Linked DNA regions of Homo sapiens: regions 2 and 3 are each linked to region 1. The links come from fine-mapping of genetic effects on gene expression. A gene starts in region 1. Each other region holds a variant in brackets. All regions are shown on one strand. Distances are from middle to middle.

Region 1 (5,973 bases):
AATTCCACTCCTAGGTGTATACCCAAGAGAACTGAAAACATACATTCATACAAAAACTTGTATGAACATTATGCTAACATTATGCTATGTTAATGGATGGTAGAACTGCTACCAGCAAGACCGGCAGCACAAGTGTTCATAGCCACATTATTCACAATAACCTAAAGTGGAAACACCTAAATAAGCCTCACCTGATGAATGGATAAACAAAAGGGGGTAGATCCATACAATGGAATGTTACTTGGCAATAAAAAGGAATGAAATACTGATACATGTTGCAACATGGATGAACCTTGGAAACATCATGCTAAGGGAAAGAAGCCAGACTCAAAAGGTCACGTATTATATGATTTCATTTATATGCAACGTCCAGAATAGGCAAATCCATAGAAATAGATTTGTGGTTGCCAGGGACTGGTGGGAAGGAATGGGGAGTGACTGCTCATGGTTACAGGGCTTCTTTTTGGGGTGATAAAAATATTGTGAAATTAGTGAGGATGATTTTACAATCTTGTGAATATACTAACAACTACTGGATTCTATGGCACAGTTTATGGCATGTGAATAAATAAATCAGTTAAAACACTGTGTACATGTAAAGAGTTATTATTATTATTCAACAGAAATCACAGCTTTCATAAAGCCCTTCACCAAATTCTCTGCAGTTCTCCAGCCTTAGAGTCTGGATTGTGCACTTGTCACTCATATGCTGCTGCCTTGGGTGTGATTTAAATAATGTTTAATAGTGATGAAATAATAAATGGTTTTAAATAGATTAATAAATAACAGATTATGATTAAATAAATACATGGTTATGTCTTGTCTCCTCAGCTCCATCACCAGCTGCCCTAGTGTGGGGTTCTCCTTCCGTGTGTCCTACAGAGCACAGGGGCACAGTAGGCACTCTGTAGGATCTGTTGAAAGAACAAATGAGGGCACACCTCTCCCCTCACCCTCCCACATTACACAAAAGCACACAGAGTGATCCTCAGGACCCCCATTCCCCAGGCACCTGTGAGGACGGTGAAGGTGAATGAATGGTAGAATTGTTACCAGCGAGACCAGCAGCAGCGCAGCTAGGACAGCCACTACAGTGCGCCCCTTCAGCAAGCAGCATGCAGACTCTGAGCACAAGCTGCAGACCACCCACACGTCAGAGGTGCCTGGGGCACCCACCAGCATGCCCTGATCCTTGGGGAATTTGCATTCTTTGCACGTGCTCCAGGTCGTTCTGATGCACCTGGAGATTTGTGCAAGGCAGGAATGTGGGCTGCAGCCCATTCCCTAGCTGTAGGGGTGTTCTACATTCAACTCAGCTGGCTTAAACTCAACTCAGTGAAGAGGACTCACTGTCGTATAACTGATAAGTCCCAAGGGGAGTGGGGTTAAGGGGTGGCTTCATTCAGGAGTTCAACAAGATCCTCCATTCTGTCATCCAGTGTCCACCTCATCTCAAGGCCAGATCCTCCTTCCCTACCCTGACCCTGTCAACTTCTGAGCCTACAAAGTTCCTTGTCCCAGGCTGGGAGAGGAGGCAGGAGTGGGAGAGGTGAGGAGAGAGAGTTAGTTCATTTGTTTGTTTGTTCTAGGGGCTCTTTTAGAAAGGCAAGAAAGCTTGCTTCCCAAAAAAACTTTTTCTTTTGTCATATTGCCCTTTCTGAAACGATGGGCTGGGAAGGGCAACATACTGATTCATTTCAGCCTGAACCGCATGCCTCCTTACACACACACACACACACACACACACACCAGGGACGGAATCACCTTCCCCGAGTCTGTGGCTGAATGGGTGAGGTGAAGATGAAGTAAAACCCAGATAGCCAACCGAAAGATAGTGAGGTTGGGAGACGAGCACAAGCCCACTTCACTTATGTGAACCTGGGTCTTCTCAAACTCCAGCTCATCTTCAGGGGCCCTGACTGAACATCACCTCCTCTGGGAAGCCCTTCCAATACCTCCCAGATAGAAAACTCTATCCTTTGTGCACCCACACACCACCTGTACTCACCCATCCATCCACCCGCCCACCTACTTTGTTCCTGGGTGTTAGGGGCTGAGTACTCCATTGTGAACCAGAGATTTCTACCCTGATGGTGTTTTCAGTCTGCACAGGAGAGAAAAGTTAAATGATCACACCAATTGATGCCTTGCTTCTCTACTAAGCACAATGAAGAGAAATGAGGGAGAGCGGGCTGGGGAATATCAGCATGTGTCTGGGACTCAACCTGGTGGGGACGGGAAGAGGGGGTGAAGGAAGCCTTTCCTGAGAAAGTGGGGGAAGGGCGCTCTGCTGTGGCTTTCCCTGCATCTTGGCCTTCCTACCCTCTGCCTCGGCTTCCTCCATTGCTGGAAAAGCCTCCACAAGCGCGGTGGAGGTCCGGGGCCTGGATTTAAAGCTCTTGAGATAAATGTGCATTGAATTTAACTACCAGTGATTAGAAGAGGGAAAGAAGGTGGCAGGGTTACAAAGAAGAGCTTCACGTTAGGTTAAGAGGGGGTGCACGGTGTCCCTGGGTGCTTTGGAATGCCTCAGGTGTGGAGGCTCAGGGAGTGGCAGTGGAGGCGAATCTGCATGTATTCCAGGGTCAGAAGAAACACTAGCCTCTACAATTCAAGCCGCAGGGTGCAGGGAGACACGGGGATGTCTTAGAATGGACCTTTGAGGGACATCCACTCACTTGGCCAAGGGAGACCTGCGTTCCAGCAGGTGTTCCTGAGCCAGCTTGGGTACCCTCTGAGTTTTGTGAATCTCTTTTCACTGGGAAATGGGAATAAAAACCACTTTTCCTGAACAGAATCTGACTGAGGCGGTGCGGTGCTACACTGGTGAGGGGGTTCCCAGGAGCGGTTCTCTGGAGTTTTCTCCAGAGGCTGACGTGGGGTTGGCGGAGAAGGAGCGCTGCACAGGCGCGTCGAGGCAGCGCGCCGCCTGCCCAGGTGGCAGAGCGGCCGAGACTGGCCCAGAGCCCGAGCCGGAGTGGTGTCCGGCGCCCCTCCCCTCCGCTCGAGCCCTCCCACTTCCTCTGAATGAGCCGCAGCTGTCAGGGAGCCCGGCGCCCCGCGCAGTGCAGGCTGCAGGCGCCGCGCCGAGGAGGCTGCCGCTCTGGCTTGCCGCCCCCCGCCGCCGCTGCACACCGGACCCAGCCGCCGTGCCGCGGGCCATGGACCTGCCCAGGGGCCTGGTGGTGGCCTGGGCGCTCAGCCTGTGGCCAGGTAGGTGCCCACCCTCTGCCTCCCCTTGCCTCTCGGAGTCCCTCCCTGGGCCCTCGGGGCTTGGATCCAGCGGCCAGGATCGGGACGCGACCCTCCTCCCAGGGTCAGACCTCAGCTGCTCTTGGGGACGTGGGTCCCCCAGGGACTGGCCCCAGTCTAGCGGTTCAGTCAAGTTTCGCTAAAGAGGGAGGTGCGAAGGCTATTGAAAGCCGGGACTCTTTGGTGTGTTTGGGAAGAGTTGAAGAGGCTTGAGTTGAAAAGCTCCCAGATCTGGTGGCCCTCCTGGGCGCCTTAGGTGCCTCCAAGGCCCATGCCGGGGTTCCCGCACGGCTGCCAGGGGCACTCGGGTGTCCCGGGAGCGCCGAGGGCGCACGGCCCCGGCTGGGGAAGGGAATCAGCGCCAAGAGAGTGTGCCCTGGCTGCCCTCCTGCCTGGCTCCGGGGAAGCATCTCAAAGTTTGGAGAGCCGGGCGCGGCGGCCCCGGAGGGCTGAAGGGTGGGGGTGAGGGCTGCGCAGAGTGCCTCCGGCCAAAGACAGAGCAAAGCCCCGGGGCGATGGCCGGTAGGCGGGGGCTAGCTCTCGTCTGCCCGGCCAGCAGCGGCGGGACACAGTCGCGCAGCGCAGGACCCCCGAAACGTTACCTGACACCCGGGGTAGGGACCCGGCATTGCCTCCCAACCCGCGCTCGGAATTATGCAATTATTCAATAATCTGGGGAAAGCCGCCGTCGCCTAGACGCGCGCCGCCGCCTAATGCACTCCAGGTGTCGGGGCGCGGCAGGAACCTCCGGCCCGAGGGGCGCGCGGCTGGGAGCGGGAAGCCAGCCCTGAGCTCTCCGCCCTAGGGTACCCTGGCCCCGGCCGTCCCACACCGGGCTCCCCGGCTCCACCCTCCACGCGGGGCGGCTGCCAGTGATGCTGTTCTGCGGAAGACGGCCAAGTGCTCCGGCAAGGGCCAGCGCCTCGGTTACTGGCCGGGTGTGGGCGCTCAACCTTGCCTCCCCTTCTGCGTGGGCTCCAGGCCCGAGCTGGGGCCAGTAGTGGGGGTCAGATGCGGTGGTAGTGGGAGAGGTGCCCTCAGGGAGCTCAGGTGGAGACCCCTATCCCGCAGCCGCTTGCCCCAGTCCCCGGGTACCACGCGAAGCAAGTCCACCCTCCTGTCGGCCTACAGAGGAGCTTCTCAGAGGGCCCATGGTTGAAAGGGCCTCTGGCTAGTGGAATCCTAGAGTCACAGTTTAAAACAATCATTGATACATTGAGTTGTGGGGGCTTGGAAGGGAGAGCAGGGGAAGAACTGCCACCAGGCCAATATGCAACTAGAAGCCAGCTGCGGGAGGAGGCCAAGCCCATTTAGGTGTGTTTAGACAGGAGGGGAGAATCTTCTCCAGGAACTGTCCTCATATCACTAGGAGATCCAGCCACAAGAAAAGAGACGCACTCCTGTGTGACTCCAGATAGGTGGCTGCATCAGAACCTTGGGAAGGAGTGGCTGCCTTAGGGGCTAGGGACAGCCTGGACCTCAGGAAGCTAAGAGCAATGGCTTTGGAATCAGACCTGGCTTCCACTTCTGGCTCTGCACCCTGCTAGCTGTTCAATCTTGGACTGGTTATGCGACCTTTCCAACAGGTTTCCTTATGTGAAGAATGGAGACACAAATTCCGTGTCCTGTAAAGTTGTCAGGATGCACTAAGGCACTGTAAGAAAGGCCCTTAACACAGGGCTGGGTGCACAGTAGGCTTTAATCAATGGTTGTTAATGTTGTTGCTACTCAAGGAGGAGGGGGCAGAGAATGACATTAAAGGACCTCTGAAGACACAGGATTTGTGACTCAGAGCTCCGCTTATATGGCGAAAACCACTCCTGAGTTATGTCTGGTCAGTTGCATTCTTGAAATATGGGATTCATTAAACATATCAATCAATGTTGGAACAATGACATCTGCTTGCAAGGAGCTGGGGGTGGGGCCCTAGCGTGTGTGCAATCTGGGTCCTGCCTGTAACTGAGAATAAGCCAAGGCCAGGGAAAGCTAAACAGAGGCACCAGGGAGTGAATGGCTTGGGGAAACCAAGGGCTGGGTGTTCAAACAAGAGAAGTTCAATTTCAGCCAGATAAGCAAGGAAGGCTTCCTGGAGGAGGAGATATCATTTGAACTGGCCCTGGAAAAGTGTGTAGAGTGTGCATGGGCCTGAAAGTGGGAATGTTCATATTTTGGAGTATTATTTTCTGAGACTAGTTAAAGAAGATGATGAATATTTTAAAACCACTCTGGTCAGTGTGGACTTTGAAGACTAGAAGGGTCTCAGGGATCATTGGGTTCACTCCTCAGGCTCCAGGACAGGACTGATGTTGATACCTCATCCATGCATCACATGAATTCAATGTGAGGATTACCAGGAAGCTTGTCTACTGGTGATGGCAGTTTGGCTGGGCAGGGAACCTGTCAGAGGCCAAGTTGAGGGTGAGACCTCAGAGCATCTACTCTCCCAGAGCTCCAGCTGCAGGCTGGACAGCGTGATGGGGTAGACAAAACTAACAGGAAAGCCTAAAAAAAAAGTAATCAAGTCCAAAGAGAGAGATCCATTGACCAGAGCTTTACAGTCATAACCTATCTGTAGGAAGGGTGATGATTCTTAGAAGCATAATCTTTGCTGAGCACCTGTTATCTGCCAGGCCCCATAAAGACACAAAGTGAGATCAGACACAGCGTAAGGGTGGAGGCCCTGGAGTTTCACTGCCTGGGATTGGCCTAGCCCCTGCCGGT
Region 2 (5,973 bases), 88 kb after region 1:
CATGTGCTCTGGCAGGACCAGCCCTGGTCTCCAGACTCTGACGTCAGAGCTGATTAGAAAACGCAACAAGGAAATGCAATTTAATTAAATCTACATGCATTTGTCAAGTGCCACTAAAGTGCTGAAAGGACCCGGAAATGATTCTTGCCACCAGGAGTCAACTTGTAAACAATCCTGAACGGCAGTTCTTAGCTTTGAGAGTAGGATGAAAGAAACTATAGATGCCTTCTAGGTAAAAGTGTACAATACCTGGAGGCCCCCCTCATCCGAAGATCCCCTGTGAAGACCCCCTGCTCAATGCAGGGGATAGGGGGAGACATGCACATGTCTAATGTTAACCAAAGCAACGTGATCAAGGTAGTATAGAAGGAAGGGCCTCCACTAAAAGAAGGGGTGGTCAGGGAAAGATCCGGAGAGGGCTTGGCACTCGAGCTGCCCCTAAAGGACACGGATTTCAGCAGTCCTGGGTGGCAGTAAGCAGGAGAACAGAGAGCATTATGGACACACACTGGGTGACATCCTGGCACAGCTCAGAGGTCAGCCCTGGTGTTGGGGACAGAAGAGAAAATGAATGTCCCAATGTTTCCTTTGTCCATTCACAGCCATTTTTTGAGTATCTTCATGTGTGTCAGACTCTGTACCAGGTACATTAAAGAAACATTTCAGCTGACAGCCATTCATAGCCTAGCTGGGGAGAAAGACTCTTAAATAATCAGCTCACTGTCCTGCTTCTAAAATCATGATCTGTGTCTGCCTAGGAATCGGGGAATCTAAAAAGAGGAGGACATTAAAATGGGCTTCAGGGACTCAGGGAAGCTTGAGCTGAGCCTTGAAAATGGCTCCAGCAGTTCAGTGTTGAGCAAGGTGAGTCCTTGCAGGATCAACAGGTTCCCCAGCTTCCAGAGTGAGGAGACCCAGGAGCTCACAGCCTCAGCACAAGACTTCGGTCACGTCAAGGTCATGACTGCCATGTGCAGCCCCTTCCACATATGCTCAACTTCTCTGTTCCCCAGGCAGAGGGATGCAGCTTGCCTCTCCCATATACCCTAGTTCTTCCATCACCCCGACACAGGGACCTAGCTTGACTCTTCCTCATACCCTAGTTCTTCCATCACCCCTGATATTTTCATCTAATTTGACTTTAAGAGAGACAACGATCGCATTTGAATCTGAGACTCTTTAGTATTAAAAACAAAAACAAAAACAAAAACCTTTCAAATGCACAGGAATGGTGCAAGCATGATGGGCTGGCTGGCTCTGTGACCGGGCACTGGGGGCTATTTTAGAGCACAGACGTCTTTCAGTGCCAGGCCGCTGATGCCATCATGAATGGCCACAGCCATCCTGTCCCCAGGAGTCCAACTCCTCAGCTCTCAGGGTCAGTTAGGCCTCTCTGGGGATCAGGGCTATTGGGTCCAGCCTTTCCACTTTGCCCTGAGCATGTCTGTCTCCCAGGCAAGCCCCCAGGCTTCCTCCCTGCCAGAAGCGCCACAGATGGTCTCAAACAGCTGCTGCCTGAAGAGATACTGAAGGAGCCTGAGGGGCTTCCCCGGGCCTGTTTAGTTCTGGTAGAAGGAGAGATCCCTAGTAGAATGTTCTCAGATGGCAGAAGAAAGGCCCGGCTCCTCCTTGCTTGGTTTGCTGCCGTCTTAATGAGCAAGGAAATCAGTCTTTGAATTAGCAAGGGTAAAAACAACAGGAGAGAGAAGGGACCAGAGCCCAGGGTACAGGGGAGACCCCAAGACATCACCTGGACACCCACAGAGTCCAGGGCCCCAAAACATTACATTCCAGGCTGAAGGCAAAACGTCTGAGCCATTGGGAAAACCCGGGTAGCTGGAAACCCTAGTCTTGATTTGCAGAAAGGGGAAAGAAAATATTCCAAAAATTATCATCAGGAAGGCTAGCTGTGGATCCCTGGTCAGACTTTAGAATACATTTTTAAGCTAATGCTTCCATTAGCATTTGGAAATGAACGCAAAGGTCACTAAGAGCCAGAGTGGCTTCCATTAGTGCTGGCTGTCTGCTGAGGTAGTGAACTACCTGTCAAGCTGGGTAATCAAGCAGGAGCTGCAACAATCTGCCAGAAAGTTGGGAGAAGGGATTCACACCTCCAGAGGGGGACTAGACTCTAAGACTCTGTAATCCCATGGGCCTTGAGGGGAAGATGCAGAGGGAGAAAGAGGACTACAAAGAATTGATGGGCATGGGTGACGGTGTGCAGAGGGCTCAGCTGGAGGGATTTCGCATCCGCCTTCCTACACTGGAATCCTAAATCTGCCCTAACTCCAAAAGTTTACAGAAGGAAGCAGTTTTATCAGGGTAGATCTTGTCTACGCAGAAACCTTGGTGACTCACCCAAGGTGGGAAGAGATCCTTTTTCTCTTGTACCTAAAGGTGAGGTCACTTACCCTGCACGTGATGACCTAACAGGACCAGTGCTCAGTTCTGTTATGAAGCAGGTCAAGTTCAGCTGAGCCCTGTGTGGGAGGGTCCTCTGCAGCACCATCACCCATGCGCATCAATTATTTGTAGTCCTCTTTCTCCCTCCGCTTCTTCCCCTCAAGGCCCATGGGATTACCGAGTCTTCGAGTCTAGTCCCCCTCTGGAGGTATAAACATCCCAGATGAGCTACCCCAGCCACCCTCCTGCCTCTTCAGCCTGTGCCCATCCCACAGGCCCTCCTGGGATTGAGGTCTAGACAATGAAGGGTATTGGCTATTCGCTAAGGTTCTTAGTGGCTGAAGCTTTAGAGGTGTAATCTTCCCTAAGGGTTTCGCATTTGAACTGGTTTTGCGTATCTGATTCAACAAAAAATGAGAGAAGCTGATGGATAATGGTGAATTGAGGAGTTGACCTGTGGAAGCTGTAAACCCCTCCTGTGCCCCCCTAGACCTAAACAATAGACTCCTTCACCTGCCAGGC[T/C]GGGCGGGCAGTCAAGATGGTCTCCTGGCCCTCTCCCCAGGGGTCCAGGACACAGCAGCTGAGGTCCTCTGCCACGCTGGTCCCAAGGGTTTGCGAGTTGTCTCCTGGTGGCAGGAATCATTTCTGGTTCATTCGGGTCCTCCTAAGCCTGGCCCCATATCCTCAGGCTGTGCCCTAGTGCCCACTCCTGGGTCTCTTTCCCAGGGCCTCTGACAGGAGGCAACCAACTCTGATGGGGAATGAGCAGTCAGTGTAGCACGCCCAGGTCCCCGCGGCCCCTTCTGCTCACCCCAGCTGCCGGATTCCAGCACCGCACATGGTGAGGGCCCCTCCTCCACAGAAAGGCAGAGGGGCTGTTTCTGGGCCTTTCCTGCCCACACCCCATTTAAGCCTCCTGGCCATTCATCCCTTCCTCAGGTCCACTTCAAGCTTGTTGAAACAAGCCTTCTAAGACTCCAAGCCATTAGTGAAAAAGCATAATCCACCCTCTAAATGGTGTATGTGCCTTAGAAGGGGCTCCTGGGAACAGAGCCTCACCCCTCTACAGCCACTCTGACGTGGACTCTCGGGAGTTTGGCGGGGGAGGACAGCCTCGGTGTCCTCTAGGGGTCTCCCATCACACCAGCCCACAGCACCACCAGCGACTACCTCCACCTGGCTCCATCGTCTTGCCTCACAAAAGCCAAAAAGAGCTAGAAGGAAGAATTACTGGCACCTGGTATCCTAATTCCGTGACTACTGGGCAAGAGGGAAGCACTGTCTGGCATGTGGGCTCAGAAAAATCATTTGACCTGTCTGAGCTTGTCTTAGTAGATGTCTGAAGAATATTTGTGAAATCGAATCAAGGCTTGGAACTGGAAGTGTTCGTTTTGAGACTTACTAATAAATCAAGTAAGATTTTCTTAAAAGCCTTTCCTAACCCTACTATGTACTCACCCCCTCTTCTCAGTTGTTCACCTGCTCCTGGGACTGCCAAAATAACCGGTCCCTGACTCCATCAGAGCACTTCTCACATGCTACCGCAATGACGAACGTGACTGTGACACCTGATTCTTCGACTCCCGACCACTGGGGAGATGCTTACAGATGGATTCATGAACGAGAAGAGCTACCATGTACCAAGTACTCACTGGCTGCCAAGTGCCCTGCTAAGAATTAAAAATGCTGATTTTCACAACAGAACTATTTTACAGCTGAGGAACTCAAGGTTCAGAGAGAGAGAGAGAGAGAGAGAGAGAGAGAGAGAGAGAGAGAAGAACTTGCCCAGGGTCACACAGCTAGAAGCTCTGAGCTGGAAGTGGAACTCAGAAGCCTCTGACTCCAGAACTCCTTCCTGCTCTCACCACCACGCCAGGGATCCTCCACCTCTGTCCTAGTGACATCTTGGGCTGGATAACTCTGCCGTAAGGGACCATCTGGTGCATTGTAGGATGGTTAGCAGCATCTCTGGCCTCGACTCACTAGACACCAGTAGCACCCCCACCACTACCCCCAGCTGTAACAAGCAAATATCACCTAGGGCACAAACCTGCCCCGGCTGAGCAGCACTGCCCTAGACCATGCTGCCTTCACTGCCGGGGCTGTGGTCCAACCCTGGCTTGGGACATGGACTGGCCGGAACACAGGGCTTTGAGAGATATGGTCACACACCCTGGGAGCACGCAGCTCAGCTGGGAAGGCAAGACTGCCTCAGAGGCCAGGTCAGAGGGCAGCTGAGAGCTGAGTTGGCAGGGTCTGGTGGAGGGAGCTACACACACTGCAGGTGCTAGGGCTACAACGTCCTTTGGGAAGGCACAGCGTGGCCTCAGACCTTCTGACAGCTGCCAAGCCTGAGACCTCATGTCTACACAGAACGCCAGGAAAATCAGCTTGTGGGGAAGGTCCCCTCGTGCAAGGCCACCCAGGCACACCCTGGTAATATCTGGTGGGAGCCCAGGTGGCCCCACATAGGAAAGGAGGCTATAAAACAGGAAGCCAGTGCGAGGCCTGCAGAGCGGGGGACACAGCTCTTCCCGGGAATGCCCACTGTTTGTTTGCCAGCTGGGCCCACGTGCCTGACTTCCCCTATTAAGGATTTGGTCCCTTCTCTTTTTTTGCCCCACCCTTCTAGATTTTTCTAAACTCAAAATGTCTGGGCTTCCCCAGCTGGGAAGAGATTGTGACATACTAAGGCTTGCTTCAGTGGCCTTAACCTGTCTACTCCTCACAGTGTCCCCATCCTCAGAAGACTCTCCCTGGCCACAACAAATTCACTCTCAGGAAAGGGCCTCCCACTGCAGGCCCAAGACTGCAGCTGCTGTCAGGGTTAAAATGGGATGAGGTGGGAGACTGTAAGCGATCGCCTGGCCAAGTGTTGCCAAATCCAGAAGTCATGACGGAATTCCCCAAGCTCCCATAGGGAGAATCAGTGTGAGGGGTCTCCCCGGCTGAATCCCACGCCCCTGGGCCAAGCCAGCCCTTCTCAGTACATCACAGGGGCTCCCTGTCATCTGCAGAGCCAGAAATTCATCTTCAAAGGCCTGTCCATGAAGCACAGAAGCCAGGTCTGCAGTTACAAACTTGGACTCAACAGGCAGAGAGAGGGAGGAAAGCAAGGAAGAAAGTCAGACCCCAAATACTGCGCCCCTCCCTCAGGAGGGTTCAGGTGGAAAATGGAAAGCTGGACCCACAGCAGGCTTTGGGGAAACAGATAGATGTTTTCTTCTCTGCCCTACTTACCTCTCTGGTCAAAGCCCCAGCCCTGCCTCTGACTTGCTGTGTGACCTTGGGCAAGTCCCTTCCCCCTCTGAACCTCAACGGCTCATTTGTCAAGTGCAAATAATGAACATCTGTCCTTCTGATTTCACAGGGCCTCTGGGCCCAAATGGGCAGCCAGATGAGAAAGTACTCCACAAAGAATAGAGCACACCCCACGTGCAGGAATGTTGGTGGTGACTTTGTGGACAGCGAATATATGAGTTCCTGGCTCCTGTCGTGGCCCGAACAAACTGTCAGAGCCTCCTAGGCTGAGGCTCGAGCACAGAGTAGCAGGAAGAAGGCTAATTAGAA
Region 3 (5,973 bases), 96 kb after region 1:
TAGAATAAAGGACAAGCAGTTCCCCACTCCCTTCAATGTGTTTCATTTGGTGCTTCTAGACTCTGGGTCAGCTGTTGTTGTGCCTTAAAGCTTTTGGGGCTGCCTAGGGCTCCAGTACACTGAGCCTGCCTCCCAAAGGCAAAACGCAAGTCGAGTGGAACCTGCATTCATTTTTATTTCTTAATGTTCATAATCAAGGCAGAAGTCGCTGCCCATGAAGCACTTTGGAAGTGGATATCTAGATAGAAGCACAAATCATTGATGGTGAAGGTCCCAGCAGCGAGGCCTTAGCCTGCTGGCCAAAGTCACCTTCCAGCTCTGCAGGAGCAGTCACCTGGCCATCCCCAGGCATGTCCCATTCGCCATGGCTTGTTCCTTTCTAAAGGAAGGGCCAGAGGGGAGGGCGGCAAGGGGGGTGATGTTCAGGGTCCCCACTGTCTCTGGGTCTTTCAGAATTTCTGAACCAAATCCACTGTCTGTGAAGTTACTCCTCATTGAGGCCTCCTCGGACCCCACTCCTCCATGGACTTGGGGCCACCCAGAGTGGACAGCGAATCTGTCCATGCGTCCATCTTTCTGATGCTTCATCCCATCCCAACCTTTGTTCCTCAGCTCGTTAGCCAATACCCTGCCTATGACTCTGCCCACCCTGTGGTTACCCTGTTTTCTATCCCCAACCATGGGACCCTCAGCTGACAAAAGGGCAAAATGCTGGAATCAGGACTGTGCTAGAAAATTCAGAAATGTAGATCCCTAGAAGTTTCCCAACAGCACCTGGCCCTAGGGCCTGCGTTCCATTTAATTCGCAAGGTGTTAAACCTGAATTGCATAGCACCTGCAGTTGATGCCATCAGAGTGCCATGTTAAGTGCCGTGGTAAGCAGGACACAGCGCCTGCCCTCAAGCTGCTTCTGGGCCAGTGGGAGACACAGACATGTGCGCAGATAATTATAACACAATTGAGGTAGGAGCTCAGATAAAAGCACAAATAAAGGAGAGAAAGATTGGAGTCCTTGCCTTGGCAAATGCTCAAACACTGGGAAAGATGCTGGAAGAACAAAGGCTAGCAACCCTTTAACTAGAAACTAGAATGACTCGTGTTTTATTGTGTTTCCTCCCAAGTGTACAGCCCTGTGCTGGAAGTGAGGAAACCAAAGAAGGGGTGCAAGGTGCAGGTGCCTCGAGGCATTAAACAGCAAGGCAGATCACATCAGGGTGTCCCAGGGCCCATGAGGTTAATTCCAAGTGAGTCAGAGAAACGATGTGGTTGGCCATGGTCCAGCGAGCTGGTACACTCGGGACCTACTGTGTAGGAGCTGGAGCCTACACCAGGTCTCCACCGCAGGGGCCATTTCAAATAAGCCAAGAAGGGCCAAGAAAAGGAGGAACATGTGGGAAATACCAGGTTATTTCAGGACCCAAGAAGTAGATGAGTGTGGCTGGAGCAGGGGGCAGAAGTGGGAACATGGAGGAGAGGGAAGGTTGGGATAGACTGTAGCAGGAGGCCTCGAATGCCAGATTAAGACGTTTGAGCTTTTTCATGTTGGCAACAGGGAGCTGAACATATCTGAGTGAGAGCTCAGCAGGATGAATATCCCCCTGGCCCAGCAAAGCCACCCTGCTTCCCCTCCCAGAAGACCCTGATAGGGTAGAGCTTGGCTGATGGACACTCATGAGGCCCAGCTGTCATGCCTTAGCCACAGTCACTGCCTTGGGTGGGGGTCTTGAGGGAGTGCCTTTTCTCCTCCTCCTCCTCCGTCTAGGAGTCATCCAGTGAGAGCAGTGTCTGGGTTCTCTGCTGGGGCAGAGATGCCTGCTGGAAGATTCCTCCTGTGTTTCAAGGGAGAGGAGCCCTACAGGGGAAGGAGACCAGGAGGCCAGCTCCCAGCCTCCACTGGGGGTGCAGTATAAATTTCGGGCCATGGTCCTACCCTTTCATCAGGCCTTCAGGGAGGCTGGCCCAGCCTCAGAATGGCCCTTCCTGCTGGCCAGAGAGTTGCCTGGGTACCAAAGGTGCTGCCCACAGACAGCTGGAAGGCAGGAAGCTCTGTGAACTTTGAATGCTGACCCATGCCTGCCCAGAGGACACTTGGACCTCAAACTGCATCTCAGTGCCCCTCCTTCCAAGCAGGCCCAGAAGCCCAAGACCAACTGAGAACATTTACAGTAGTGCCACTGAGGGCTCAGCTCAGAAGAAACCTTTGCCCTACACCACAAGGCTAAGCCCACCCACCCATATATTTATGATTGCTCTAAATACATGGCCATGTTAGCCACCCCTTGTGAGGTCTTGGTATTATGGACCTGTCAAGCCTCATTTCCCAAAGTACAGCCTCAAGAGTGAAAACTGTTGTGTCTGGAACCAGAGCAGTTCACCCCCAGGCACTGAGTCAGCTCATCTGTACACCCTATAGCCACTCTAGAAGCAGCCAATGAGACCCAAGTGACAGTGTTACACACACAGATACGCAGATGCACACGCATATATGTGCACACACACACTCACACACGTGCATTGCAGGGGACATCTGTTCCCCAGAAACAGCCCAGGAACTGTCAACAAAGTCCAACACTCATCTAAAATCTGGGATCCAAGATTATCTGGCAGAAAGTGGAATTCTAGGATGCCATCGGCTTTCCACACCTGCTGGAGCCCACTTTCAGGAGAGTTGCCTGAAGTTGCTGCACATTTGCTTCCTGGGTACTGGGTGGGCGACTTGAGATTCACAGTGATCAGGCACAGCCATACCGGGAGCGGGGATTGGCAGCCTTTCCAAAAGAGCCCCTGGGGTTCCTTTTCTTTCTCTTTGGCATGCTGTATGTATGGGGCTGACAAGAGCCTAGGAGCTTCCACCTTTGAGTCTGCAAAGCTTTGGGGCTGCAAGAATCCCTGAGACCCCATGTAAATATCTGAAGCAGACCAACTCCTTCCACATTTACGGCTCACACTCTAGTCCTCAGTGAGCCACTTAGCAGGCGTTTGTGGTAATAAAGAGAACCCTGGTTAGTCTCCAAGAGTGAAGATTGGTGGGGAACCAAAACAAAGTCTCCCCAGTATTAACTGAAGTGAGGCTAGAGTCTGCCCTACTCCCCATTGCCCTCTGCTGTGCTCATGAGCAGGTGAAGGAGGGATGTGTGCATTTCAAGTTAGTCTTTTAGCAGTCCCACCTGGCTTCCTTTATTTTCTCCAGCAGGGGCTGGGGTGCAGTGAGTTCTCCCTACCCTCCAAACCCCCTTCCTGGGTCCTGCCTCTTCCAGGCCTCCCCAGCTGCCCCTAGGAATTATGGCCCTGCGTGATTGAATCTGCTCAGCTAGCCCTGAACCTACCCCATCACTGGCCCATCCTCTGGCACTGCCAAGCCATGCACCGGGCCAAGCAACGCCTGCTGAGGACACGGTGCCAAAGATCAGCCTGTTTCCTCCTGTGGCAGGGTACACAGTCACATCGGTCGTGTCCTCCAGGCAGGGGCG[G/A]GTGTACGTGGCCGGAGCCCCCCGGTTCAACCACACGGGCAAGGTCATCCTGTTCACCATGCACAACAACCGGAGCCTCACCATCCACCAGGCTATGCGGGGCCAGCAGGTAATGGAGGGGGAGCCTGGGGCCGGGATGGAGGGAAGAGGGGGCAGATCAGACAAATGGGAGGGCAGTAAATACAGGCATGCCTGGACCACTGGGTGCCCCAAAGGGCAGTCATGTTCCTCCAGCCACCTTCATGCTGCCAGGAGTGGCAGGAGTGCGCATCCACCTACAGAAGGCCCCATGGGCCCTCCAGGATGCCAGCTGCTTCCCTTTTCCTGGAATGGAAGCAATGAGGAATGGGAAGGCTGCCAATGCCATTGCCCCACAGGGAGGTGGTTGGCAACCAGACTGTGCTGCCAAGAGTCCTGTGGTGGACAATGATGAATGCAAATTGGAAAGCTATAAGAGTCATTGGTGGTGAAAACAGGGCTCCAATCCCAAGTCACTTCCAGCACAGGGGAAAACTGGGCTCCTGGGAAGCAAGGTGGCTTTCCCAGGGTTCTATGGCAAATTCATGACTGGGTCAAGCCAAGAACCCTCTTGGTGGGGCTGCCTGCATCATGCCACCTCCTGACCCCAAATAACCCCAAAATCAGGCCTGGGCTCCTCCTAACCAGCAGCATCTGTGCCCTCTCTAGGCCAGAGCTGAGTGCTGTCCAGGCCCTTCCATGTTGTCCCCAGCTCCCTGCCGGCTCTCCTGAGCCTGGGAACAGTCCTGTCTCCTGAGTCTCTGACTGCCCTTGGCTGGTCACTGTGAGAATCCGCTCCTCACCGAGTCTAACCTAAATCCCTCTCACTGCAGAGCGCCACCCTCCTGCCATTCCTCCTCCTGTCTCTTGGGTGCAGGCCATCCCAGGCAGCTCAGCTCTCACCCTCCACCCTGCCTGCCCACACTCACCCAGGGCCAGCTCTTTTGGGAATCGAGGGCTAGACCTTGAGAGCTGGAGGGAATTTGCTGATGAATTTATGACATTTTTCCTGCCCAGTTCCGCCTCCAACATCCGAAGGAGAAACCACAGTGCTGAAGGCAGCTAAATTAAGTGAATTCCAAATCGCGGTGACCCACATAGCTGAGGCCACATATTTAGACAAATTTCTCCCGCCCCCTCCCTCACTTGCTGTCTGTCCGCTTCTTAGTTACTTTATGTAGGCACATCTCTTCCCTCTCCCACCCATGTGTATTATTTCCCTTTCCTCTCTTCTAAATTTTTTATCCTTCTCCTCAGTTAAAAGCTTTTCATCCTTGAGAATAGATTTCTCCTGAAAACACGCTAAGCCAGAGATGGACGGGGTAGGCAGAATCATGAGCCAGGGTGTCAGACAGACCCCAGTTCCAACCAGCTTGGCAGTGACCAGGTGACCGGCCTTCTGACCTTGGGCAAGCAATTCTCTGAGTTTTGGTTCCTTCCCTTGAAAATGAGGATGACTCTCTCTCCTAGCAGCATGGGGCTCACATGAGCTAACCCAAGGCTATAAACCATCCCACACAGGGCTTGTCCACGAACAGGGCGCCTTCCCCTTTCCTAAGCTACCCAGTGATCCAATAAGCATTAATTAGGTACCTTCTGTGTGCCAGGCAAAGTACCCTGGCCAAGAGGGAACACAGCAGGCTCAATGCCTGCCCTCATGAGGCTCCCAGCAGAGGGAGTGGGGGCTGGTGGGAGGAGTATGGAGCTGAAGGCACATGGAAAAGGGGCAGGGAGCAGAGTGGAGAAGGTCAAGGATAGCTTCTAACAGGAAGTGACACATCAGCTGAGACTTGAGGGATGGCAGGGGATGGTCTGGGGAGGACGCAGGGGCGGGGAGTGCATGCAAGAGAAAAGCTTGTGCAGAGGGAAGCCTGGAAGCCAGCCAAGGCCTGGGGCCTTTGGAGAAGAGAAATAACTCAGTTTGGCAGGACCCGGGAGCACTGCAGTGGGAGCAGGAGCTTGTGGGGACAGAGGCTGGGGAGGGAGGCTGGTCCAGCACGGTCCTGCTAGAGAGTTTAGATACTATCCCAAAAGCAAGAGGTGGAGTGGTGTTAGAGGCCACGCCAGCTGCCATGGGGGTGGGCTGAAGGGGCCAGCCTGAGGCTGGAAGGCCCTTTAGAAGGCGCCTCACCTAGGGACGAAGCAGGGGGGAGCAGTTGGTGAATTGGCACCCACCACGTAGCACTTGCTGGCAGGTTTACGGGTGGGAGAGGTGGAGGGTGGAGTCAGGGTTTCTGGGTTTCTGATGAGGGGGTGGATGTTGCCCTCACTGAAGTGGGGAGCACTGTACCCCAAACAGAAGGGGAACACAGCAAGTGCTCAGACACTGAAAGAAATCATAATTCACCATCCACGATGCTAATGCCAGAATGATTTATAACATCAAAAATTAAAAACAGTGGCTTACACCTGTAATCCCAGCACTTTGAGAGGCTGAGGTGGGAGGATCACTGAAGCGTAGGAGTTCCAGACCAGCCTGGGCAAC

Alleles and levels. Alleles are on the strand shown, and positions count from the first base shown. SD is a standard deviation of normalised expression in the study named. Not every link is listed here.
As copies of C replace T in region 2, the expression in monocytes after LPS of the gene that starts at base 3,065 in region 1 goes up (small effect, 0.39 SD a copy in Quach 2016).

Evidence for each region. PIP is the estimated chance that this variant, and not a neighbour inherited with it, causes the effect. A credible set is the group of variants that fine-mapping cannot tell apart.
Region 2: its variant is the best candidate, but not a certain one, in a credible set for the expression of ITGA11 in monocytes after LPS (Quach 2016, PIP 0.85).
Region 3: its variant is the best candidate, but not a certain one, in a credible set for the expression of ITGA11 in cerebellar hemisphere (GTEx, PIP 0.74).

Annotation. Positions count from the first base shown.
Region 1 is chr15:68,429,255-68,435,227 of GRCh38, reverse strand. It overlaps ITGA11 (integrin subunit alpha 11), which reads left to right and starts at 3,065. Exons shown (of 30, transcript NM_001004439.2): 1 at 3,065-3,213. The coding sequence starts at 3,162. RefSeq lists a silencer at 1,064-1,358 and an enhancer at 3,905-4,664.
Region 2 is chr15:68,341,204-68,347,176 of GRCh38, reverse strand. All of the region lies in intron 10 of ITGA11 (integrin subunit alpha 11), which reads left to right. Among named protein-coding and RNA genes, the nearest start is that of FEM1B, 66 kb to the right of the region's middle. RefSeq lists an enhancer at 4,723-5,318. The variant T/C (reference allele first, on the strand shown) is at 2,926.
Region 3 is chr15:68,333,303-68,339,275 of GRCh38, reverse strand. ITGA11 (integrin subunit alpha 11) reads left to right here. Exons shown (of 30, transcript NM_001004439.2): 12 at 3,431-3,579. Among named protein-coding and RNA genes, the nearest start is that of FEM1B, 59 kb to the right of the region's middle. The variant G/A (reference allele first, on the strand shown) is at 3,471.